6 separate regions of the Homo sapiens genome follow, and regions 1, 2, 4, 5 and 6 are each reported to be linked to region 3. Evidence: microRNA targets listed by miRTarBase, many of them from high-throughput screens and not tested one by one. Region 3 holds a microRNA gene; each other region holds the end of a gene's coding sequence. Distances are between the middles of the regions.
Evidence for each region. The annotated mature microRNA hsa-miR-6754-5p reads CCAGGGAGGCUGGUUUGGAGGA and lies in region 3 at 1,427-1,448, opposite strand. An mRNA with a match to its seed (bases 2 to 7 or 8) in the 3' UTR can be bound and repressed. Matches are read on the target gene's strand: a 7mer-m8 pairs with bases 2 to 8, a 7mer-A1 pairs with bases 2 to 7 and ends in A, and an 8mer does both.

Region 1: the mRNA of HGS is a reported target of hsa-miR-6754-5p. Seed matches in the 3' UTR shown: 7mer-m8 at 2,628-2,634 and 7mer-A1 at 2,534-2,540.
Region 2: miRTarBase lists CCDC85C as a target of hsa-miR-6754-5p. The part of its 3' UTR that is shown has no 7-base or 8-base seed match.
Region 4: miRTarBase lists FNBP4 as a target of hsa-miR-6754-5p. Seed matches in the 3' UTR shown: 8mer at 1,469-1,476.
Region 5: miRTarBase lists SFT2D2 as a target of hsa-miR-6754-5p. Seed matches in the 3' UTR shown: 7mer-m8 at 2,691-2,697, 7mer-m8 at 2,084-2,090 and 7mer-m8 at 2,074-2,080.
Region 6: the mRNA of GIPC1 is a reported target of hsa-miR-6754-5p. Seed matches in the 3' UTR shown: 7mer-m8 at 2,514-2,520, 7mer-m8 at 2,352-2,358 and 7mer-m8 at 2,220-2,226.

What each region holds. Positions count from the first base shown.
Region 1 is chr17:81,701,332-81,704,331 of GRCh38, reverse strand. It overlaps HGS (hepatocyte growth factor-regulated tyrosine kinase substrate), which reads right to left. Exons shown (of 22, transcript NM_004712.5): 22 at 2,211-2,824. The coding sequence ends at 2,714. MRPL12 (mitochondrial ribosomal protein L12) reads right to left here and starts at 965. Exons shown (of 5, transcript NM_002949.4): 1 at 757-965; 2 at 1-88. The coding sequence starts at 830. RefSeq lists a silencer at 598-977 and enhancers at 878-1,481, 1,468-1,537, 1,482-2,085, 2,690-3,000.
Region 2 is chr14:99,512,085-99,516,040 of GRCh38, reverse strand. It overlaps CCDC85C (coiled-coil domain containing 85C), which reads left to right. Exons shown (of 6, transcript NM_001144995.2): 6 at 706-3,956. The coding sequence ends at 795. CCNK (cyclin K) reads right to left here. Exons shown (of 11, transcript NM_001099402.2): 11 at 3,601-3,956. Among named protein-coding and RNA genes, the nearest start is that of CCNK, 33 kb to the right of the region's middle. RefSeq lists enhancers at 2,735-3,735, 3,736-3,956.
Region 3 is chr11:71,471,000-71,474,955 of GRCh38, reverse strand. MIR6754 (microRNA 6754) reads right to left here and starts at 1,453; the gene lies at 1,388-1,453. It overlaps NADSYN1 (NAD synthetase 1), which reads right to left. Exons shown (of 21, transcript NM_018161.5): 6 at 2,456-2,507; 7 at 1,590-1,678; 8 at 1,270-1,387; 9 at 430-561. RefSeq lists enhancers at 815-1,721, 1,722-2,629.
Region 4 is chr11:47,714,646-47,718,573 of GRCh38, reverse strand. It overlaps FNBP4 (formin binding protein 4), which reads left to right. Exons shown (of 17, transcript NM_015308.5): 17 at 1,062-2,080. The coding sequence ends at 1,152. AGBL2 (AGBL carboxypeptidase 2) reads left to right here and starts at 3,205. Exons shown (of 19, transcript NM_024783.4): 1 at 3,205-3,399; 2 at 3,824-3,928. The coding sequence starts at 3,924. RefSeq lists an enhancer at 3,468-3,527.
Region 5 is chr1:168,241,968-168,245,923 of GRCh38, reverse strand. SFT2D2 (SFT2 domain containing 2) reads right to left here. Exons shown (of 8, transcript NM_199344.3): 8 at 1-3,423. The coding sequence ends at 3,384. It also overlaps the pseudogene ANKRD36BP1. Among named protein-coding and RNA genes, the nearest start is that of SFT2D2, 18 kb to the right of the region's middle.
Region 6 is chr19:14,475,723-14,479,678 of GRCh38, forward strand. It overlaps GIPC1 (GIPC PDZ domain containing family member 1), which reads right to left. Exons shown (of 9, transcript NM_005716.4): 7 at 3,690-3,802; 8 at 2,962-3,043; 9 at 2,040-2,845. The coding sequence ends at 2,694. Among named protein-coding and RNA genes, the nearest start is that of PTGER1, 2.3 kb to the left of the region's middle. RefSeq lists enhancers at 1-285, 2,625-3,140 and a silencer at 702-1,184.

The DNA.
Region 1 (3,000 bases), not on the chromosome of region 3:
ATCCAGGGGTGCACCAGCGAGGGCCTCACACCTCTGATGGCCGCTGCTCCTCATATGTCGCACGGCACAGACACATGGCACCTGTCGCCTAGCCCCCACCCCCAATTAAAACAGACTTGTCAGTCCTGGAATGGAAGGGGCTGCAGAAACCAGAGGGGCAGGACAACTGGGGGACTGGTGGGTGCCATAAGCTCAGGCTGGTAATCACTAGGGCCGGAAATTACCTAGCTCCTTGGTCCCAGTCCAGGGTTCTCAGACCTCAAGGGGTCCGTATTGATAAGATTTGCAAGTTACTTTAAATTCTTCAAAGAGCCTTAGAAAGCCACGTGTTTATTTGCAGCCATACCACTCAAACCTCAAGTTTCTGGTTTGAATGAACTACATCAACCCAGCGGTGGCGAAACTATTACTTAGGTGCATCTTCCTGCGCAAAGCCTCCCAAAACATGGGGGCCCCTGGCCGCAAAACGCCGCACCCACGGATGGGCCTTTGCTGCGGAAAAGGCTGAGGCCAAGGGAGGAGCAGGGAATCGTCCAAGGTCATCTGGGGCCGACCCCGGCGCTTTCCACGGCCCAGGAGGGAAGGGGCGTGCGCACCGGGAGGCCTCCTCCCCGCGCCCCCGATGGGACCCCCAAGCCCGGCCTGGCCGCTGCAGGGAGGCCGGCCCCGCCGCCCTCCTCGCCCGGATCGACCCCTCAGTGCCCGGCTGCCCCCTAACCCGCCTGCCGGCCCGGACCGCCCCAGGATCCCGCGTACCTGGCAAGGCGGAACGCAGCGGCCCGAAGCCCAAGGCAAGGCCCCCACAGGGGGCGAGCGGCCGCCGGCAGCATCGGTCCGCGGGCTGGAAGGTCACACGCGGTTCCCCGGGAGGAGGCGACGCTCTAGCCGCCTCGGCCGCCGGGCATTCGAGCTGGGGAGGAACGCTCTAGCCGCCACGGCTGCCGGGCATTCGAGCCGGAAATGACGCTCTAGCCGTACCTCGCGCTAGCCTCGTCTCACCCTGAGATTACCCACAAGGCGGCGCGCTGCGCAGACGCAAAAGCGTCGTCTGTGGCGGCAGCTAGACATCGGGCGACCCTCGTCCCGCCAGGTTTTGGGGTCGCGCAAACGAGCGACGGGGGCTGGGGCTCCGGATTCAGGTGTTCTTTCTTCAGCGCTCACGGGTTTCTGTCCGTACGCGATGCGAGCGAACGTCGCGGTCGAGGCTAGGGCCCCGAAGCCCGCAGTAATCCACGTCTCCCGCCCGCTCCGGGCCCCCAGTGCCGCCGTCGCGGGCGGAGGCGCGAGGTCTGGGCTTTGGCGCCTTCGCAGCCGCAGGCGACATCCTCTTTCCTAGCTAAAGCCCCAAACGCCCAGGTGGCTTCCTGGGAGAGCACGGCTGAGCCTCCGCCTTCAGATCAGAACAGGCAGAGCCTCCAAGGGCGGCTTGGGCCCAGTGCCTGCTTATCCTGCCCGTCTCTCCACACTTCTTCTTTCCCTGTCCGTTGGAGTCCATTCCTTCCTGGAAAAGCCAAAGCCGCGCTCCCCTAAGAGGCCTGGATGTGAAGGTGAGTGAGACGCCCTGGCCTCTGGGTGCAAAGGCCGGCGCCTGCCGCTTTCAACACTCAGGAGGCGCGTTTCAGCCCCGCTGGCCCCCGGCCGCAGACTCGGAGCGCTGAGCTCCCACCGTTCCCATCACCCGACTCCCTTCCCAGGAATGAGGAGCACCCGGGAAGCTTCAGCCACTACACGAAGGAGGCGCCAAGCCCAAACTCCTCCCCAGCTACCGGCGGGGTCAGTGCAGAGCCGCGGAGGGCACACATGAACCCTGGCACGCAGCCTCAGGGAGGGGCAGGCTGGAAATGACCCTGCCTGCAGCTGGGCCATCAGCCTGACCACCTGCCCCCTGAGCAAACGTTGATGCAGGTCGGGCGCGGTGGCTCATGCCTGTAATCCCAGCACTTTAGGAGCCCGAGGCAGGTGGATCACCTGAGGTTAGGCGTTCACGACCAGCCTGGCCAACATGGTGAAACACCGTCGCTACTAAAAATACAAAAACTAGCCAGGCATGGTAATGGGGTGCACCTGTAGTCCAGCTACTCGGGAGGCTGAGGCCCGAGAATCGCTTGAACCCAGGAGGCGGAGCTTGCAGTGAGCGGAGATCACCACTCCAGCCTGGGTGACAGAGTGAGACTCCATCTCAAAAAAATTAATTAAAGAAAAAACGCTGATGCTTTCTGAAATACATTTTATTATCGCTGTACCATTCTGGGGCACTGGAGATGGCAGCTGAGAAGCAGAGAAGCTGGAGACCTGAAGCCTCCACCCTTGGCTGTGGCTGCCGAGAGAGGCCCCTGCAGAGGGAGCCCCAGGCCACACCCAGACACCACAGCCAGCTCACAGTGCGGCCAGAGGGCACAGGCTGCTTGGGGGGTGAGGGTCCCCATTCCTGCCACCTCTCACAGACCATGACCCACAGGGCTGGGGGCTTCCCCTGGGAGAAAGTCCTTCCCTCCCCATGGCCCAGCCCTGGGGAAAGAAAGCAGAGACTAACTCAGGGACTGCAGTAGGCTGAGGACAAGGGAGGTGGGCTTGGGGTGAAGGCCCCCCCTCACTCGCAGAGAAGGGACACTACCGGCAGTAGAGGACAGGGAGGCAGGACGACGGCAGTTAGAGACGAGGCGTTTCAGGTGAACTGTATGTAGTGTTACTCCGGACGTGAGCATGGCCTGGGTCAGTCGAATGAAATGAGCTGGGCCTCGCTGCCCTGTGCCGGCGGCCCCTGTGCCTGCGGTTGCTGGGCCACGGGGGGCTGCTGCTGGGGGGGACCGCCAGAGGGTGCCATCTGTGCAGGAGGAAAGCAGGCATGGCCCTGGTCCTCCCTTCCCCAGCCCAGGGAGGAAGGCTTTTGTCCCAGCAGAGCCACAGACCCACAAGTGCTTGTAATCCATGTCCACGGACTGCAGCTCATGCAGCCAGCTCATGCGGCCTTTGCCTTTCAAGTAAATTCACGGTTTTTCC
Region 2 (3,956 bases), not on the chromosome of region 3:
TCAGAGGTGCTAGGAGCCCTGGCCCGTTGTCATCTCGCTGCCCCCTGCCCTTCCCAGAGGGCCCCTGGTGTCTGCAGATCCGCCCTCCCCAGGAGTGCCGTGCCTGGGGTTCTGGATAGAGCTTGAGCCCCCCACCCCCCCGGGACTGGTTTGTTCACCCCAGGTGTTCCCTGGGTGCTGGCCCCCGGGCCTCTCAGCTTGCTGGTGCCCCCTGTGGCTGCTGGCTGGGCAGATGGTGCTCAGAGCAGGAGGTCCAGGTGGAACCCTCCAGCCCACCAGGCTGGGGCTGCCCAGGAGAGCTCCGTGCTCGACCCAGCTGAGCACCATCGGCGGTCTCCTTGGGGGTGCTTGCAGGAGCCATCGGGGAAGGAGTTTCATAGGGTCTGAACCCAGGACTTAAAGGGGGGGCGAGAGGCTCTGAACTGTGCAGCCCCTCCCCCGCATCACCTAGTGGGGCCTGTGGACCCCACTGGACAGCTGCAAGGCTGAGCCACACCCCAGCAGTGACCTGCTCAGGCCCGATAGTTAGCGCGGCATGCAAAGACCTGGTGTGGGTGTCTCTGGGCCTGCAGTGGCCTCCGTGTCCCTCCTGGCCCCATGGCTCTGAGGACGTGGGTGATTCTGCCGTGATGAGGCGGCGGATGTGCATAGGCGGCAGGTGGACGCGGGTGAGTCCCACCACTCACATCTCTCTCCTCTCCACAGGTGGTCTGGAGAAAGCTGGGAGATGCAGCCAGCTCCAAGCCCTCCATACGGCAGCACCTGTCTGGGAACCAGTTCAAGGGGCCTTTGTAGGGCCACTCTTCTGTGGACGTGGACTGGCCCTGCTGGGGGTCCCCAGGGGGAGTTTCAGGCCCCAGACACGGGCAGGACCTCCAGCCCAGCCCCTGTCTTCTTCCTCTGTGGTGAACTGTACATAGGACGCTGCCCGCCCTGGCCCAGCTGCCATGGGTCCGATGCACTGGCCCAAGCCGCCATCTCCCGCCTCATACACCAGCAACCTGGGAAGACGAGACGCTGCGACTGTTCCTGCAGCAGAGCGGCCCGGACGCCTCATTCCCCCTCTGGGCCCTGGGCTCCATGAGCAAGAGGCTGCAGGCTGCTTCTGAGATCCAGCCTGGGAACTGTCCAGGCTCCTCTGTCCTGCCTGGGATGGAGGGGCCACTCATCAAACCCTCTACTCCCCGGCTGCCACCCACACTGGACAGAGACCACCACTACCTGGGTCTTGACGCAGGTGGCACCACTTCTTGCCCAAATGCCGTGGCCTGGCCCCAGGCCCCCCAAGCACTGGGTCCCCGGCATGTGGACAAGGCCACTCACCACATCTGTGGCTGGCTGGAGGCTGCCCTGGGCCCTTCCTGTGACCCTCAGCCTTGGAGGTCAGGGTGCCCTCACACCTGGGGATCTGTGCTCAGCCACCCGATGCCCGCTGCTCCTTGCTTTTGGAGGTCATCCCCCTCCCCCCCAGTCTCTGCAATGTCCCCCTGCCACCCTGTCCAGGCTATGCCCTTCTTGGGCTCCTCCTGCCCCATGCCTGAGGCACGTCCCTTTTCGTGGTTTACATGACAGGCCAGTAACAGGAAGGGCCTGGGGAGAGTTTCTGGGCTGAGCCACATGTGATTTTCCTGATGGGCAGCACTGGGCCACAGCTGGGGCTCTGGTTGGCTGTGACCTCCCCCAGGGCCTGGCTGCATCTTGGGTCCCTGTGGACAGAGCTGTGTAGGCTGCAGATGAGAGTTCTGTTCTTTTTGGGAAGGAGCGTGTCTGGCCAGGTTCTGCCTTTAGTTTGTGGTGTGACCTTTAGCAGTTCACTCAGCCTGTCTGGGCTCTTGGTGGAAACAGGTCTCTGAGGTTCCTTTTCGGCCATGCTTATGGCTCCAGGTCATCCAGCGCCACAGGGCAGGGGTCCTCACTGAGGGGGCGTGAGCCAACAGCCGACGGCTGAGGGCGGGCCGGGTGGAGCTGAGTTCTGCTGCCTTGCAGTCGCTGCGGGTGGAGAGTTGCCTCCCCACTCTGAGCCCGTGTCCTCAGTAGTAAAATGGGCAGCATAAGGCCCTCCTCACAGGATTCTGGCATCAAGTGAGATCTTCAGTGTAAATGACCATGTATAAACTGTAAAGTGCAATAGAAAACTGTGTGTGTGAGGAAAGTAAGGCCTAGAGGGGGTGATGTGTGGCACATGACAGGGATTTTGATCCCACAGCTGCAGCACGGGGACAGGCCGCTTCCCCACATCCGCTCATGCCACTGTAAGCAGCCCTAGCTCTTGGGTCCAGGACCTCACCAGGTCCTCGTCAGACTCCTGTGCTCTTCCAGGGGCTGCTCAGCCCCACCTGAAGAGCCCAGAGAGGCTGTCTTCCTACCCAGCAGGTCTCATGCAGGCCCAGGGCTGGGGATGCAGGCAAGAGGAGGGAGATGGCCGCCCTGTCCCTCTCCCTAGCTGGCGGCTCTATTCTGAGCAGTTCTTGCTGCCCGTTTGCTCTCAGGGGAAAGGCTCACGCCCCCCATCTTAGCCCCAGGGGGGTAAGTGGGTGCTGGTGATGGGATGGTGTGGCGCTCCTGCCGTGGGTGTTGCCAGGAGGCTCTTTGGGAAGGAGTGTCGCCCGGTCAGGTGGTGCGCTCCCGGTCACTAGGGGTGTACACGTGAAGTTGGGTGAACACCTGCTGCTCATGGTACCCAGTGATTCTTGCCCGAGTGGGCAGCTGAGCAGAGGCCCCTCTGGGTCTTGCAGTCCAAAGAACCGCAGAGTAGCCCAAGGGCTGTGGGTCCATTTTGAGTGGCAGCCAAGTCTGGGAGCCCGTGTGCATCATGTTTGGGTCAGGTTGGCGTGGCCACCACTGAAATAAGCAATAAGTACGGGCTCCTGGTACCTGCGGATCTCCTGCAAACAGGCCCAGAGAACAGCCTTGAAGCCACCTTTCCCCTCAAGGGGACTGACCCTGTCTTTAATGCTGCAGTGGCATCCAGGGATCAGTGGAACATTGCTTTGAGAACCCTCCTGCTGTTACGGAGGCAGCACAAAGCTGGTGACCCCTGAGCCAACACGGCACTGGGATGGCTTTCTAGGACAGAACCCTGTCGGCGACTGTCACATCTCAAACTAATAGCTGATTTTAAAAGCCAGCAGCAGCGACGCCATGTACCTGAGTACAGGTGGCAGTTGCAGAGCCGTGGGCTGTAGAAGGTCAGATGGGGCTTCCCACAGGGGAAATCTGGGCATGCTGTAGCTCAGGGTGACTCCCAGCTCCGTCACTAGCAGGGCGACCCCCTTCCTTCTGGAGCCTTAGCTCTGAAAGCCCCCAGTGGGGGTGCCCTTTCAGATGCCCCCTTTCCATTTCAAAGGCTCTGACTCTTGATCTTGAAGCCGGACGCGGCACTGGCACTCGGCTTCAGTTTCCACTGTGACAGATGGAGGTCTCCTTTCGCCCCAGCCCAGGTGGCCAAGCCCATCCTGGCCTCAGAACATGCTGAGCACATTTTGTAGGGTGGCACCTTTTTATCCAAGTTACTAGCTACACATCAGTGTTTAAAGAGAAAAAAGTGACCTTTCATTTTTTTTTTCTTGAAACTTGAGGAAACAAGATACATACTACTGATTTTTTTTTTTTCTTAAAACTAAATGCATGACTGCAGAGCGGTAGAGGTGTATATTTTTCATACTGTGGGGCAAAGTATTTGTGCTGCTTTTTGGAGATGGACTGGAACGTCTGGTTTCTGTCCCCGGGCCCGGCAGCTACGTCTATTTTCTGTAGAAGGTGCCACAGTGAGACCTGGAGCCACCCCTTCCTGCCCTGGCGCCGTTTAGAGCTGGGAGCCCGTGGACTCCCGGCCTGTTTCTACCTTCTATTCAACCACTCTGACGTGGGGAGACAAGAAGAAATAGAACTTTTTGATAGTGTGGTAAAAACATTGATTTGAACTATTTTAGTAAAAGGAGTAACAAACAAGATTG
Region 3 (3,956 bases):
ACGGAGCCCTCCTCCCGCACTGTGGGAACGCAGGACTCGTAAGCTGCCCTCAACCTCATCCGTCCACTACTATGTGCTGTGTGTCGGGGTTCAGCTGTCTCCAGACCCGAGGGCGGGAGGTCCCCCCTCACCAACCAGGTAAATTTGAGGCCATCAGAGCAGGCGGGACCCCTGGGGGCTTCTCCACAGGGGCCCTCACTAAGCACCCGGCTTACAGGGGAGAGCCAGGAGCAGGCGGGACCCCCGGGGGCTTCTCCACAGGGGCCCTCACTAAGCGCCCGGCTTACAGGGGAGAGCCAGGAGCAGGCGGGACCCCCGGGGGCTTCTCCACAGGGGCCCTCACTAAGCACCCGGCTTACAGGGGAGAGCCAGGAGCTCGGTCTCTGCACAGAGAACCCTCCCCCAGGCATGTCCAGGCCCGCTCATTACCACGTCATCCAGAGAAAACTGGGATCCTTGAGCAAAGACGCTTCCGTTCATGGCAATCATGGCACAGCCGTCGTAGTACAGGCGGTCCCCGTCACAACCCTTCTGGTTGGCCAGCAAGTAAATCCCACCGTTCTGAAAAAGGAGGACCCCATAGCGGAGTGGTCAGCTGTGTCCACCACCCTCACCTGCCACCTGCCCAAGTACAGGAACCTCCGCCGAGTCCCGCTAGGTCATCCTGAGTGGTCCCACCACCGCAGAGATAACGCATATGTGTGGGGAAGCACAGACCTGTGAAGCTGCGGCGAGCCCCGCCTTGCTAGGTGCCAGGCTCTACACAAAACATTTGTTTTTCCTTCACAACAACCCTACAAGGCAGACCCCATCACCTCCCTCAGGCATGATGAGGTTCAGACAAGCCAAAGAAAGCTCTGCATGATGAAGCCAAGACTCAAACGCGGCTCAGCTAGACCCACATCTGCCCCGTGAAGGATGAACCAGCACTGCCCCTCGCACGTCTCACTGCCCAACAGCAGGAGCAGCAAACGTACGGGTGTTCCCTACGCCTCACCATGATGCCAACGAACAAGGAGCACGTTCCGGTTCCTGGTCATGGCAGAGAGGGTGACAGGGTTGCTTCATAGGGTGGCTGCGTGGGTGAGATGGGCTGTGCCGGCGAAGCCCTGGAGGGCAGCAGGGCACACTTGTTGAGTCCAGGCCATAATTACTAGCCTGGAACATCCATTGTGTGTGGGCCCAGCCCTGCGATGGGCACTGAGGATGCAGGAGTTCTTGAGATACAGTGTCTGCCCTGTGGCGCACGCTCCCTGGCCCAGCCCCTACCTTGCTGGTGACCATAGTCACGAGATCCACCCTGGTGTTGGCTTTGCGCAGCACTTGGTGGCTGCCCGAGGCGTTGGTGATGATCTCCACGCCATCCAGGCCCATGTCGATGTGCGGGCTGCAGGCAGAGGCAGGTGAAGAGAACAGGCCACCAGACTCCTCCAAACCAGCCTCCCTGGCAGCCCCTTGCACTCTCCCACGGCAGCTCCCAGCCCACGGCCACGGCCACGGCCACGGCCCCAGGACGTCTGCAGTCCCAGGTCCTCCCAGCTGGCCCATATGAGGTGGGCGATCAGACAGCACAGGGGCATGGGGCTGACCTGTGGGGTGTCCAGAGCTCCTCACAGATCTCACTTCCAATGCAGGTGTCCCATGTCACCAGCACCGCATCTCCGAAGGGTACGGTTTCCTGCAGTCGGAAGAGAAGAGTGCATGAGATTCACTAGCCATGCCCTGTCTGGGCCACGCACTACCTAGGGCCACGGACATCCTGCAGCCACAAGAGCTGGAGTTGGCTCTGGGCTCTCGCACATTCCGAAGAGGTGGGTGCCCTGCGGCTGCGCATGGGACACCGGGTGGTGCCAGGCAGAGACGCCCTTAGGAGCCTATGTGTGGAAGAAGGGGACGCCTGTACTCTGAGCAGCCAAGGGGCAGAATGTCACGGACATCGATGGGGCTGCCAATTGGGGCCAGCAGCTTCTGAAGCGACCCTGTCCTGTGATCACACTGAAGCAGCTGCTGCCCTGTGCTGATGAAGCTAGGCCCCCACTCCCAGCCACAAGGCAGTGGCTGAGAGGGGACACCAGGGTGCCTTCCCTTAGAATTCAAAATTGAGAGTAGGGCATTTTGCTGTTGGTCTAGATAACACTTAAATGTCAGAACATAGCCCCTGGGGATGGAGAAGGCTGTCTTCTGCCACAAGGAGGAAATGAAGAGGAGGAAGCCAGTGTGAGTGGGGGAAGGGAGGAAAAGCAGCCCCAAGGCAAGGAGGAGCCACCCTGGCTGCTGTCTGGCCACGCAGCCCCCCTCACTATAGGAACCTGCCTCCTTTGTCTGTTTCAGACCTGTGAGCACTGTGGTGCCTTCCATTACCTGGATCCCAAAGCGTTCCCGCCCCACCTGGTCCACTGTTGGCCGAGAACAGCGACAACCGACTGAAAAACGGGCTCCACACCCAGGGACTCACCTGCTTTGTCAGGTCCTGTATCATCCGAGGCAGAAAGTACTCCTCTGTGTGCCTGGAGAGGAAAACACCGAGGAGCTGAGGATGAGCATCTCAGGACAAATGAGGAATGGCGGCTACATTTAAACAAAACTCAAACTGAACCCTCCGAACTGATGAACTGGCAAAGGAACTGCCAAGCGTTCCCCCCAATGCAATAAACAATCGCATTCAGGTAAAAAGAAAAGAGTATGAAGGTGGCTTGAGGAGACTATGTGACATGGTGGTGGGCTGGGCTCTCCGAGCTTCGGGCTGCCTCAGTTTCCCCACACGCTCATGTTCATCTTTACTGAGAGATGTGTCACAGGGGATTTGCTGAGAACTGGCCACGTTGCCTCATGGAGAAATCCAGGTGGAATTCCTGATCGCTGTTACTGAATCAGAAAAATCGTGTGGCATTAACCCGAAACACAATGACAAACCAGTATCATCCCTGGAATAAAATGATGCTCTCAATTCGAGAAATCAGGAGGAGGGTTTAATACCAACTTTAGTGCAAGGTGTCCCAAGAAGCTCCACCAAGAGGCGGAATCTTCAAAACAGACAGTTCACGCATTTGACTTCCAATAGGCTGTTACGAGATGCACCACTCAGATCTGCAAGGAACTCCGTTTCCTTTTTGCTTTCTTAGAATTCCCAGGAGCCTTCTGGGCATGGTTTTAGTAGTTCTCTCTACTTAAGAAATGTTAAAGGTTGAGAAACTGAGTCAATGATGTCTTTCCCCCTCATTCACGTAGGGAACGGGGACAGGAAGATATCCTACAGAACTGCAGGCTGCCTCGCCATCCCATATTGAGCACTCCATTCACCCTCTGTAGCCTGTTGACGGCGATGCTGCTGCACCGAAATGCATTTTAAATGCAGGAACCGTCCAAACATCTCTCCCTTCATCTGCACCTTTCCCTCGACTCATGCAAAGACACCCTGGACACCGGAACAAAGACCCAGCGGGACAGGCATGTACCCGGCCTTGCTCCTCACTGCAGCTGTGCTCCACAGCCAGCGCACACCTTGAGGATGGCTCTCTGCAGGCAAGGACCAGGCCTTAGTTATGTTTTCCTAAGAGGACCTGGAACCTGGAATGGCTCCTTGAGCCTGCCAAGTACTCTTTACTAAAGCAGGGGCATGCTGAACATGACCATTTCTTGTCATCATTCGGCACAGCTCCCAGAGGATTAGAAACCTCAGCTTTCTCTAAGTGAACCAAAATGTACAGTTGCTTCTGGTGGGCTCCAGCCTCACCTTCCTGCCACCTCTTCCACGGGGATGAAAGGAATACCATCCCAGAGGGCCCAGTGTGACACCTGACACCGAGGCGTTCATGAGACGAACGGGGAAGAAGGAACAGGAGCCCCACACTTATGCTCTGAAATCCTAAAGACAACATCAACTGATAAAATTTCTCAACAAAAGCACAAATAAATGACAGGAGATAAGTTTACAACTAAGAAAAGAATTTGAAGTC
Region 4 (3,928 bases), 24 Mb from region 3:
ATTTGAATTTTAATCCTTACAAATAAAACTACTTGAAAGAGAAACTCAAAAACATTAGATCCGGCCGGGCACAGGGGCTCACATCTGTAATCCCAGCACTTTGGGAAGCCGAGGTGGGTGGATCACGAGGTCAGGAGTTCGAGACCAGCCTGGCCAACATAGTGAAAACCTGTCTTTACTAAAAATATAAAAATTAGCTGGACATGGTGGCAGGCGCCTGTAGTCCAAGCCACTTGGGAGGCTGAGGCAGGAGAATCGCTTGGACCTAGGAGGCAGAGGTTGCAGTGAGCCGAGATTGTGCCACTGCACTCCAGTCTGGGCAACAGAGCAAGACTCCATCTCAAAAACAGAAAAAAAAACATTAGATCCCAGGGTCCCTGTTGGTAGACTGAGGATTAGATATATCTGCCCTGAAGAATCATAACTCCTGTGGGCTAAGAAAAACTCTAATAGAACGTGTTTCATTTCTTCAGTGTGCCTTTAATGGTTATTGGAGGTATATTTATATAAAATAAATAAGGCCGGGCACGGTGGCTCACACCTGTAATCCCAGCACTTTGGGAGGCCAAGGCAGTCAGATCACCTGAGGTTGGGAGTTCGAGACCAGCCTGACCAACATGGAGAAACCCTGTCGCTACTTAAAAAAAAAAAAAATTAGCCAGGCATGGTTGCACATGCCTGTAATCCCAGCTACTCTGAGGGGAGGCTGAGGCAGGAGAATCGCTTGAACCTGGGAGGCGGAGGTTGCGGTGAGCCGAGATCGCACCATTGCACTCCAGACTGGGCAACAAGAGCAAAATTCCGTCTCAATCAGTCAATAATAAATAAATAAATATGCACTTAGACATATACGTAAAACTGGGGTAGTGTTTGGTTGACCTATCAGAATGAAGAAGTTTGATGAAGAATATACTGATGTTTGGCTGAGAAACAAAAGATTTTCATAAACATAGACGTGATAGATCAGGTTTTTAATTTCAGTTAGATTTTTATTTGCTGGGAAATGAATACTTTTGTTAATTTTTCTTTCCACTAAAATAATCTGTATGTTGTTTTCACAGTGGCATGGCAGAGAGAAATGCTAATTTTGAAGCCCTTCCTGAGGATTGGAGAGCAAGGCTGAAGAGAAGGAAAATGGCTCCAAACACATAGTTTTTAAGTTTTTAAAACTTTTTTGTATTATTGTTTGTTTTGTGTTCAGTTCAAAGTCTTAACCAGTTTTATTGTCAAATAAACTATAAATGTTATGGGGGAGATCTTATAAATTTCCTGGGCAAGAGTGTATGCATACAAAGTTTTCACTTTTGTGAAATGTAATTTTTCTGTTTTTGCAAAGGGATGAGGTGATTGGAATTGCTTTGACCATGCTGCCTTTATTCTCAAACTGGCAAACTTAGCATGTTAGGTGTATTAACCTCATCAGTCTTGAAGAACATGTGGCTCATGAGTATAACACTTCTGTAGAGGACTCCCTGACAAAAGTGAAGAATTAACTTCTCCTCCAGAACAAGTGCAATTCAGAAGGCAGCTCTGCATTCTACCTTGCTTGACTGGAATTGTCTGAAGCTTTTTCTGGCCTCTTTTCTCTAGTCGGCCACCCCTGAAGTGCTGAGGTCTAAGTGGTTTACCTCGTGCTGATAGATGGCCACACTCTTTAGAGTAGTTCTCATAAGTTCTAGAACTGGTAGCTCGGTCGTTTCGCACACTAGGTGGCATACAGGCAGCAGCAGGTGTTCATATCCTTGATTTTGAGAATTTCCCCTCAAGTATGTGGCAGTAAATACAACAAGACACTCTATGTATTAATGTCTCCATTGTCTTAACCCTGTTCCAAAACAAAATTCACCTCCTTTCTTTATGTGAATGTATTCTCCATAAAATTCCAGTATTTAAAAAGCAGTTTACTGTTCTGTACTTTCTGTTGTATCACAATCAGGTAAAAGTCACTTTAAACTGAGGAAACGGCAAATTGTGTTTTAAAGCTCTTTGTATTTCTCCAGTTTCTGACCTTGTAAATTTGTATATATGCACTAATAAAGCTTTTTTTATAATCCTGATGGGTTATCCTTTTGCTCGTCAACTCCTGTTATTCTGATTATGTAACCAGGACTTGTTTTTTTTTCTAAGCATATACAATGCAAGGTGCAAACATTTAACAACAGCTTTCAAGAAAATGAGCAGGAGATCTTTAATGGGGAGTGGTGGGGCCAGTTTAGACAAACAGGCTTCTAGTCCCAGATGGTGCTGTGTGATCAAAGTTTTGGGGTCTAATATTATCTATAATATCTAGATTGGTTAATAGCCATATTAGATAATATTTTACCTACTTAATTCCTGGCAATGATGTAATATGGTTAACATTTCAGAAAAAAAGGTGCTTTATAGCTTTTTTCCCCCCACTGATAAAAGTAACAGATACGGTTATATTCATATATAGTTAACCAAAGACACGTGTTTGAATTTTATTGTAGTATATTTATTTTTTTGTTGTTGGTTTTTTGTTTTTTTTTTTTCTGGAGACAGAATTTCGCTCTTGTTGCTCAGGCTGGAGTGCAATGGCACGATCTCGGCTCACCGCAACCTCCGCCTCCCAGGTTCAAGTGATTCTCCTGCCTCAGCCTCCCGAGTAGCTGGGATTACAGGCATGCGCCACCACACCCAGCTAATTTTGTATTTTTAGTAGAGATGGGGTTTTTCCATGTTGGTCAGGCTAGTCTCCAACTCTCGACCTCCCAAAGTTCTGGGATTACAGGCGAGAGCCACCGCGCCTGGCCTGGAGTAAATTTCTATGCATATAATTGATTTTTTTAAACCTAATCAAAATGTGTGATTTGAATTTGTTAGCTCTGTTTCTTAAGATTTGCAGTGTAGAAGGTAATTTTTCCTTTCTAGCTGTGCAGTGGAGAGAATGTTAAGGTGAAAGGAGAGAAGCAGCAGCTCTCTTAGAGCAAATTATGCATAACAGTTATCTAAAGCCAACAGCAAACCAGCTTGGAAGTATGTTGAAGGCTACTGGCATCGTACTCATCAATGCGGTTTCGATTCCGAGGCTGGGGCTGTGATGTATGAGGGGAAGAAAGCCGCTGCCCGCCATACATGTTGCAGACCTTCCCGGGGTCCCCGCTCCCTCCTTGGGGGCGAGGCCTAGCTCCCCGGAAGCGCCCGACCGCCCCGCCCTTTCTCCGCTTCCTGCTTTCGGTTGCTAGACTACCCGGGCCCTCACAGAAGGCGGTGGCGGGCGGGTGCAGCGAGTTTGTCCCCTTGCCCGCACACTGCTTGGCCTCTGTACTTAAGTGCGGTGGCCGCCTGCCTCGCTGGAGCTTCTCTGCCGCAGCCATCCGTGCTGCTTGGGACGGGCCGGGGCGCGAAGGCGGTCGCATCCATCGCTCTGCCCTCCTGGGAAGTTTCTGCTCTCCTTCCCCGCTCCTACCCTTAGGAAACCCCCTCACCACCTGCCCCAGACCAGGTTCCTCTGAACCCTAAATTCAATCTTTAGGGCCCACTTTCCCAACCCCCTGACCTTTTTCCATCGGCACCTACCGAGACGACTTCGTCGCGTGCTCCCATACCCATTTCTTTCACTTTCCTGTGGCGAGCATCTCCTTTCTCAGGGAAAGGGAAGCATGGGGCCAGCACCTTGGGAAGAAGAAGCGGGAAGATACGCTGCCCTCCCTGTCTCAGATGCACCTCTGGCCTCGGCGTGACCACCTTGTTTAGCTGAGGAGAAGCTGGGTTGGCAGGGTTTTCTGAAGTCAAGAGGGAGCTGGGGGGCGCCCGGGGAGGTATTGGCAGTTTTTTCACTTGTCCTCTTGTGGCTTTGTAGCTTCTCTTGTGTAATCAGCTGCCTATTTGGAAATTGGGCAGGGTTTGCGACTGGATGCTAATGTCACTGACTAGTTTTCAGCCTACCATCCAGAAGTAACATGTT
Region 5 (3,956 bases), not on the chromosome of region 3:
TGTACTAAGGAGACGCAAGGCCACGTACAAAAACTTGAAATAGAAAATTCTAGTGTTAAGAAATACAATTAAAAAGCAAGATGGCCAAATTGAGCAGCTTCAGAAAATCCTGCGAAGTTCAAGTTTGATGCAGCAGTTATTGCAAGAAAATGAAACTACAGAAATAGATGAAGCTTCTTCTGAATTTAAATCTGGATCCTCTGTAGCAGAGGTTCCCAACCTACAGGCCATGGACAGGTCCATGACCTGTTAGGAACCAGCTGCACAGCAGGAGAGTTACTGTGGATCTTCTAGATCATCTGCATGCCATGTGAATCTTAAAACCAGTTTTTAATTTCTACAAAAAAAAAAAAAAAAAAGCCTGCTTGGCTTTGGATGGGGACTGCATTATATCTATAGATTAATATGGGAAAGAATTAACATCAACAATGTTGAGTCTCTCAACCTATCAACAAGATATTTACTTAGGTCTTAATTTTTCTTAGCAATGCTTTTTAGTTATCAGTGTACAGATAATCCACATAGTTTGTCGGGTTTATTCCCAAGAATTTTATATTTTAATGCTATTGTAAATGGTATTATTTTTAAATTTTCAATTCCTAATTCTTTACTTCTAACATGGAGAAACACAATTGATTTGTGTATATCAATTATATATCCTGCTGTGTTGCGAAACTCACTTGCTGGTTTCAGTAACTTAGTAATGGATTTGATTTGGTTTTCTACATAGATGATAATATCTGTGAATAGACAGTTTTACTCATTTCTTTTCAATCTAAAGGCCTTTCATTTTTCTCCTTCCCTCCCTCTTTCCCCCTACTCCCAATTAAAACATGATTGCAGTGGCTAGAATTTTCAGTACAACGTTGAATAGAAGTGGTAAGAGTTGACATCTCTGTCTTATTCTCAATCTTAGGGGAAAACATTCAGCCTTTCATCATTACATAGGATGTTAGCAGTAGATATTTTAAAGATGCCCTTCGACAGGTTGAGGAAATTCTCTTGTATCCCTAGTTTGCTGAGATTATTTTTTAAACAAAGCATGGTTGTTCAATCTAAAAAAAAAAAAAGGACATGGACATGGAGGGATGAGCCTTCTAGGTGTCTTATTCCAGGCTGCTGGAGCTGCTGGAGCTCACAGTGACTAGCCAAGCCTCGTATCAGTTCTAAAGAAAAGGAACCATGAGCCCTCCTGACCTCCTCCATGTCCCTTCTGACACCACAGCCCTTCTGAGATCTGTCTCCAAGAGGCACCTGGGATGTGAAAGAATCCCACAAAAGCCAGAGGGGTAGCATAAAATTTCCTTTCCTGGCTGAGGACAGGTTAGTGACCTGAGCAGATGACTGGATGTCATCAATAGCCTAGAAAGAACCTGGGAAGACTAGCTCCTCTCTCTGGCCCCGTCAGGCTTGTTCACACCTCCCCAGCCTCAGAAGAAAAGATCAGCAGGGCACAGTGGCTCACACCTGTAATCCCAGCACTTTGGGAGGTCAAGGTGGGCGGATTACCTGAGGTCAGGAGTTCCAGACCAGCTTGGCCAACATGGTGAAACCCTGTCTCCACTAAAAACACAAAAATTAGCACGGGCGTGGTGGCGGGCACCTGTAATCCCAGCTACTTGGAAGGCTGAGGCAGGAGAATTGCTTGAACCCGGGAGGTGGAGGTTGCAGTGAGCAGAGATCACGCCACTGCACTCCAGCCTGGGCGACGGAGTGAGACTCCATCTCAAAAAGAAAAAAAAAAAAAAACCAGTCAGAGTTCTTAGCCACAGTAGGACAAAGAAAGGTTCAGCAATTAGCCACAAGAAAGGGGACAACCAGCAGGCCACTTCCTTTGGTTTAGCAGTGACAGAGGAGGAGCCCTAGTGGACCAGTTGGCCCTGTGCAAAGAACAGAAAGGCAATCCAGATAAACGTCATTTGTAGGATGACTCTGGAGGTCCTGGAGGGCCAGGAATGCTGGCTGACAAGACAGGGCACTAATCGTAGTCAGGCAACAAGGAGGAGCTGAAAGGGAACACAAGGGACAGTGAACATCCTGCAGATCCAGGAAGAAGCTTCCAAAAGAGATGGGCAGGGAGGGCCAGGGAGGAGATGGCTTGGCTGATGAAAACGAGGGAAACAGTCACAGGCAGTTACAGGAGGCACAACCAGAAACAGGCCAGGAAACTCTGGGGTCATGAAGGAGGCTGAAGCTGTGGCTTTGGGTGGATCCAAAAACCAGTGTGGGCCTTGATTCCCTTGACTGCACAGTGGTATAACAATCCCTGCTTCCTCACAAGGCTCTCCATAAGAACCAGGTAAGATCGTGGACACAAAAGCACTTTGTAGGTTAGGCATCAGGCTGACATGAGACCACCTGCAGTTTATCCCCAGTGTCCCCAGCACAGGCTAAGTGCAAACACTGGGACTATTTAAAGGTCACTGGGCAGGCGTGCCTACTTCCTGCTGGCTGCACAGCAGGGATCTGTCTTCCCACCCCACTCTCCCCTGGCCCAACTCCAGGGGAGAATGGAAAATAAAATCAGTTTAAAAGCAAACATTTATAAATAATGGAGAAAAAAATATAGCTGAGAGCAGCAGGATTTTTCAACTCCTATGGGCTCTCGTCCAAAAAAAAAACAGCAGCATTTTCTGCTGCTGCTCTGTTCTTTCCCCATCTAGTGCCAGGAGGTCATAAAGAAAGATATGCAGGGAGAGGGAGGGAGGGATGGGAAATAAAACCCAAGAGAAAAAGAGTCTGCACCTAATGTCAGAAAATACATTCCACAGTCAGGCGCAGAATCAGAACACCAAGAATGCTTAGATTCAAATTCAGAAACAGCATATACCACCAAAAAGTGCTTCTTTTCTACCTCACTCCATGGCCAGGCTCTCCAGGGGCTTGTCTAAAGCAGAGTCACTTGTTCTCAGATGCCAGAGTAGAAGCAGACTCACTCTATGCAGGACCACGGTGATGGCTTCCATGCTGAGGGACAAGTGGACCCCAAAACTCTGTCCCTTACTGTTGCTCCCGTGATCTCTGATGGGGCTGCCTTTTGCCACCTGGGAATCACTTGCACCCAAGGCTTATGTGCTGTTGCTGAATAGGTTTGTATTCATGGGAATTCAGTGGGACAACATCCAGAGAGGAAACAGGTACATGAGGAAGATTCCACTCCACAAGATACAGAACCCACTTCTCATCCTGTGCTACTGACATTCAGGTTCGAGAATGTATTGTTGCTTCCAAAAGTAACCCTCAAATGTTCGAATCACAAGCAACACATTGCTGCAAGATAAAAGGCACATGTCTGTAAGACAGAGGTTTCGAAGATAGTTACAAAACTGTCCACCAGCTTCTGTCCATAGTGCCTTCCAAAGCTTCATAAAACTGGCCATGAATTATGCAAGACACACGGCAAAACACTTCTTCACAGCATCCCTAGGAAAGAAAAGACACAAAGATGAGTGGAACGTCATCACCCCAAAGGCACTCCTTTAGAGGGCACCCAGAGTGGAAGCTGCAGAGTAGAAAGCACCTAGACTGAAAGATCAGACCTTCACAGCATCAAACTGCAGCTTCAACATTTATTAGTAGTACTATCCTGGGAAAGTTCCTTGTCCTGTTTGAGTTTCAAATTCCTCATCTGTAAGAGGGGATGTCCCCACTTACCCGACAGTCTGATTATGGGATTAGCCATCATAATCAGAGAAAAAGATAACATAGACTGTCAGAAACTAAGAAATCAGTCAGGATTGCTGCACTTTAATATCGGTCAAAATCACAGAATGCACTGACAGCATTAAATCAAATATTAACTGGGACCTTTCTTCATTCTAAGCAGGCAGCAGAAGGGAGCTCACTATGGGTCCTGAGCACTTATTAATATGCTATAATGGCCTTATCACAGGTATTTACTGCTTGGAATTCAGTGTAGAGGGTGCAAGGAAGAGTTGGTCTTCAAGAAATTACTA
Region 6 (3,956 bases), not on the chromosome of region 3:
GGAGCTAGAGAGGCTAACTCCAATTCTGTGGGGCCAGCAATGCCCCCCCTGCCCTGCCAAAGCCTTCGTGGATGTCGGGGTGGGTGCTGGTGGGCAGGGCCTCGGGTAGACCAGCTTGGGTCAGGCCCAGCCTGGCCAGGGGATCCGCCTATTTATACAGGGGCTTAAGCCCCGGCTAGGGCCACAGCGAGTCATATCCTGGGAGGAGGCTGAAAGGGGGCAGGGGAACCAGGAGGCCTGGCGACCTGGGGACTCTCCCCAGTGACTGGCTCCTTTAAGATGGGCTGAGTGACACCTGTGACACACGTCCTAAGACACAAAGACTCGCCTCCTGCCCTGAGAAGTAGGGTCACACTGGCACAGCCTCACACCCTAAGACATACAATCCTGTCACTTACCACTCAGTTTCATCCTGTCCCCATCTCAGCACAGCCAGGTTGCTGCCGCCACATCCCTGAACTCAGGGTCTTACCCCCAGCGCCGGGACGCACCCAGAGTTACTGCCTCAATTCCAGCCCCTCCCAACACCCCAAAATGCAGCCCTCTGAGATGATCACCCGAACCACCCTCCTTAGTGCTGGGAAATAGGGTCTCACTTGGCACCCCGAGAGATACACACACGCACACACACTCCTTATTGCCAAAACTGCCCCTGACCACACTCTGTTTGACTTTCAATGACCCCTCAACAATCCCAGACAGGCCCCACCAGCACACTCCGTACACCCAAGGCACAAGAAGTGACACCCCCCGCCGCTGGACACCAGAGACCTAGCTGGCCACCCCCACCCTCACCCAGAAACAGCAACGCCCTGAGACACACACACCTGCACCCCTAGAGACCCCTAGACCTAGCCAGCACCCCCACCCAGGAAACAGCAACACCCCGAGACATACCCTGACACCCCTGAACACCCCAAGGCCTAGCCAAGCACCCCTCCTTGCCCCAGAAACAGCACCCTAAGACACACACCCCCACACCCCGGGACACCCCAAGACACAGTCACTCCGTTGCACTCCCCACCACCAGACACTGCCAGTTACACCTGCAATTGCCCTGGAACACAGAGCCGGTTATCACATCCCTTACCCACGACACAGCCCTCCCTCATTGCGTCACGAGCCATCAACACTCTTGATAGACTCACAGTGCTACCCAACACCCGAGACACACATAGCCACACCCCTTCACCACCGCAAGCGGCTCCCAGCACAGACACCTGAGGAGCCCACAGGTGCCCGGGGATGCCCTGAGTCACCAGGACTGCGGCTCCCCGACTCCACCCGGGTCTGTCCACCAACACCCAGCCCCCAGGGTCTTCCCCTTTTCCCCCTTCCCCTCTTCCTGGTGGCCCAGTGCCCGCCCGCCTTTTGGAACGAGGATTGCAAGCTGGCCTCGGACTTCCCCACAGCCTCTCGGCTCACCCCCAAGCATTCCTGTGGGGCCTTCTGGCCCAGCGCCCCTTGCTTCAATCCCTTCCCTTCCCTCCAGGTCTGGCCAGGGTCCCACCCCGCCTTTCCCTGATCACCCTCAATCCTCGAAGATGAGTGGGTTGTCAAAACAAGTATGCTGGGTTTATGTCTAGGACAAAGCAGGGTGCCCCATGGACGCCTGCGTGTCCAGCATTGGGCCGGGTGGGGTGGGGGCTGCCTCACGCCTGCCCCCAACCTCCCGGTGTAGGGGTGGGGCTCTGGCAGGCCTGAGGTTCCATCTTTCTATTTCCAAGCCAGGTTTCAATGCCCTGGTGCTCCCCACGGTCCGGGGGTTGTCACCAGCTGCAGACAGCAGCCTTGTGAAGCTCCAGGGGGTAGGAGGCCTTGTGGGAGAGGGGGCAGGATTTGAACCCTCAGTAGTCCAGGAAGCTCTGGCCCTGCCTGGAAGCCTGGTGGCCTGCAGCCAGAAGGAACAGTGGGAGGGGGCAGGTGGCTTGGTGCCAGCTCCTAATTCAATTTGGAGCCTGCGGAAGATGGATTTCAGCTGCTGAATTCTTTCTCAGCCCCAATCTTCCCCCTCTCCCACCCCGAAGCCACACAGGTCCAACAGCAGATAGATTCTTTATGTTCAAGACAGCAAATTCAGATACAAAAACCCACCGCCATCGTCCCTCCCTCCCTCCTGCTCTGGGCCAGGGATGGGCCTGGAAGGAGAGATGGGAGGTGGGGAGGAGGTTGCGGGGTTCACAGCAGACTCGTGTCAAATGCGGAGGTAACAGGCTCCACAGGGAGGGGGCTCCTCTCAGGAGGGGTGAGGGCATTATTGCATTTGCTGGGGGGAAGGACAACCCTCTCCCCTGTATTCCCTGCGTCAGGAAACTAGGAAGGTCATGACCCCCAAACAGAACCCAAGGCCCCAGGGAGACAGAGGGACCAGTTTGGCAGCTGATGGTGGAAAGTGGTGGAGGCGGGGGTGGCCGCCCAATTTGGCTGATCCCTCCCCTCCCTGTGCCTGACCCAGCTGAGGTAGGTGGGGAACAGGGCACAGGGGGGCCGGGGACCCCGGCCAGACTGGGAACCAGGGAGGGGATGGTACCGATTGGAGCGGGGCAGGGGGCCTGGCCCCACCTCCCCTCACCATCGTCCTTGGGCTGCTGAGCTAGGCTCAGGCTGGAGGCTCGGGTCCTGACGTCAGTGTCCCTGCTGGGGGCCCCCACCAGGTTGCGCCCGGGTCATCATCGCAGGGTCCGGGGGCAGTCCTAGTAGCGGCCGACCTTGGCGTCCCCAATGGCGCCCCAGACGTCAAAGACGAACTCGTCAGGGAAGGCAAAGTCACCCAGCCGTTCGTCCAGGGCCTCGGCCAGCTCATCCGGGTTCCTTTTGTCCTTTCCCAGCTCCACCATGGTGGCCGCTATTGGGGGAGGGGTCAGAACGGAGGCACAAATGACACCAGGGACCAAGGGGCTCAGGGTGGATTCGGCCCCCAGCAGACCTAGATGCCCCCTCCCCCAGGCAGCCCTCACTCACCCAGCTCCGTGTCCCTGATACCCATGTAACTCTCCAGCAGGTCATCCACCTTCTCAATGGCCTTCTCTTCAAAGGCAGAGGGCTGGGGGCCAGGGAGGGGTGACAGCGACATCATAACAATGTGAATATACATAGTAATTGGACGGACTGCCATTGTCACCACTTTACATATATTCGTATTTAGACCTCAGGACAACCCTGAGAAGGTGGTATCGGTGTTCAGCTCATCCCCATTTTACTGATGGGCAAACTGCGGCCCATGTGCCCAAGGAAGGTCCCTGGGAGCTGGGAAGTGGCAGAAGTGGACTAGAATCCAGGCTGTCTGCCCAGAGTCCCCTCAGCTAACAGGTAATGCTGCCGGTTATGAAAAGGAAGGGAGGGCTGGGCGCGGTGGCTCATGCCTATAATCCCAGCACTTTGGGAGGCCAAGGAGGCTGGATCACCTGATGTCAGGAGTTCGAGACCAACTCCTGGCCTGGCCAACATGGTGAAACCCCATCTCTACTAAAAATACAAAAATCAGCTGGGCATGGTGGTGGGCACCTGTAATCCCAGCTACTTGGGAGGCTGAGGCAGGAGTATCGCTTGAACCTGGGAGGCAGAGGTTGCAGTGAGCCGAGATTGCACCACTGCACTCCAGCCTGGGTGACAAGAGTGAGACTCTGTCTCAAAAAAAAAAAAAAGAAAGGGAAGGGATGCCGGAGATAGGGTCCGGCTGGAGCACTCACCAGATCCTCCACCGTGGCGGGGCCCCGGGATCGGAGCCGCAGGGTCCCTCGGCCAGTGCCCAGTTGTGGGCCAGAGCCAGGGCGGCCACCCGCTGAACGCTGGCTGATCATGTCTGTGGGAGGCAGGAGAGGAGTGAGTGTGGGGGAAGCTTGGTTTTAGCACGTTCTGGGCAGGAACTTGTCCTTCCTGGCTTTCACCACCACCCCAAACTTCTCCAGGCTTCTGCAAGTTTCTGGGGGCTGGGGCCGGGGTGATCCCAGGAGGGC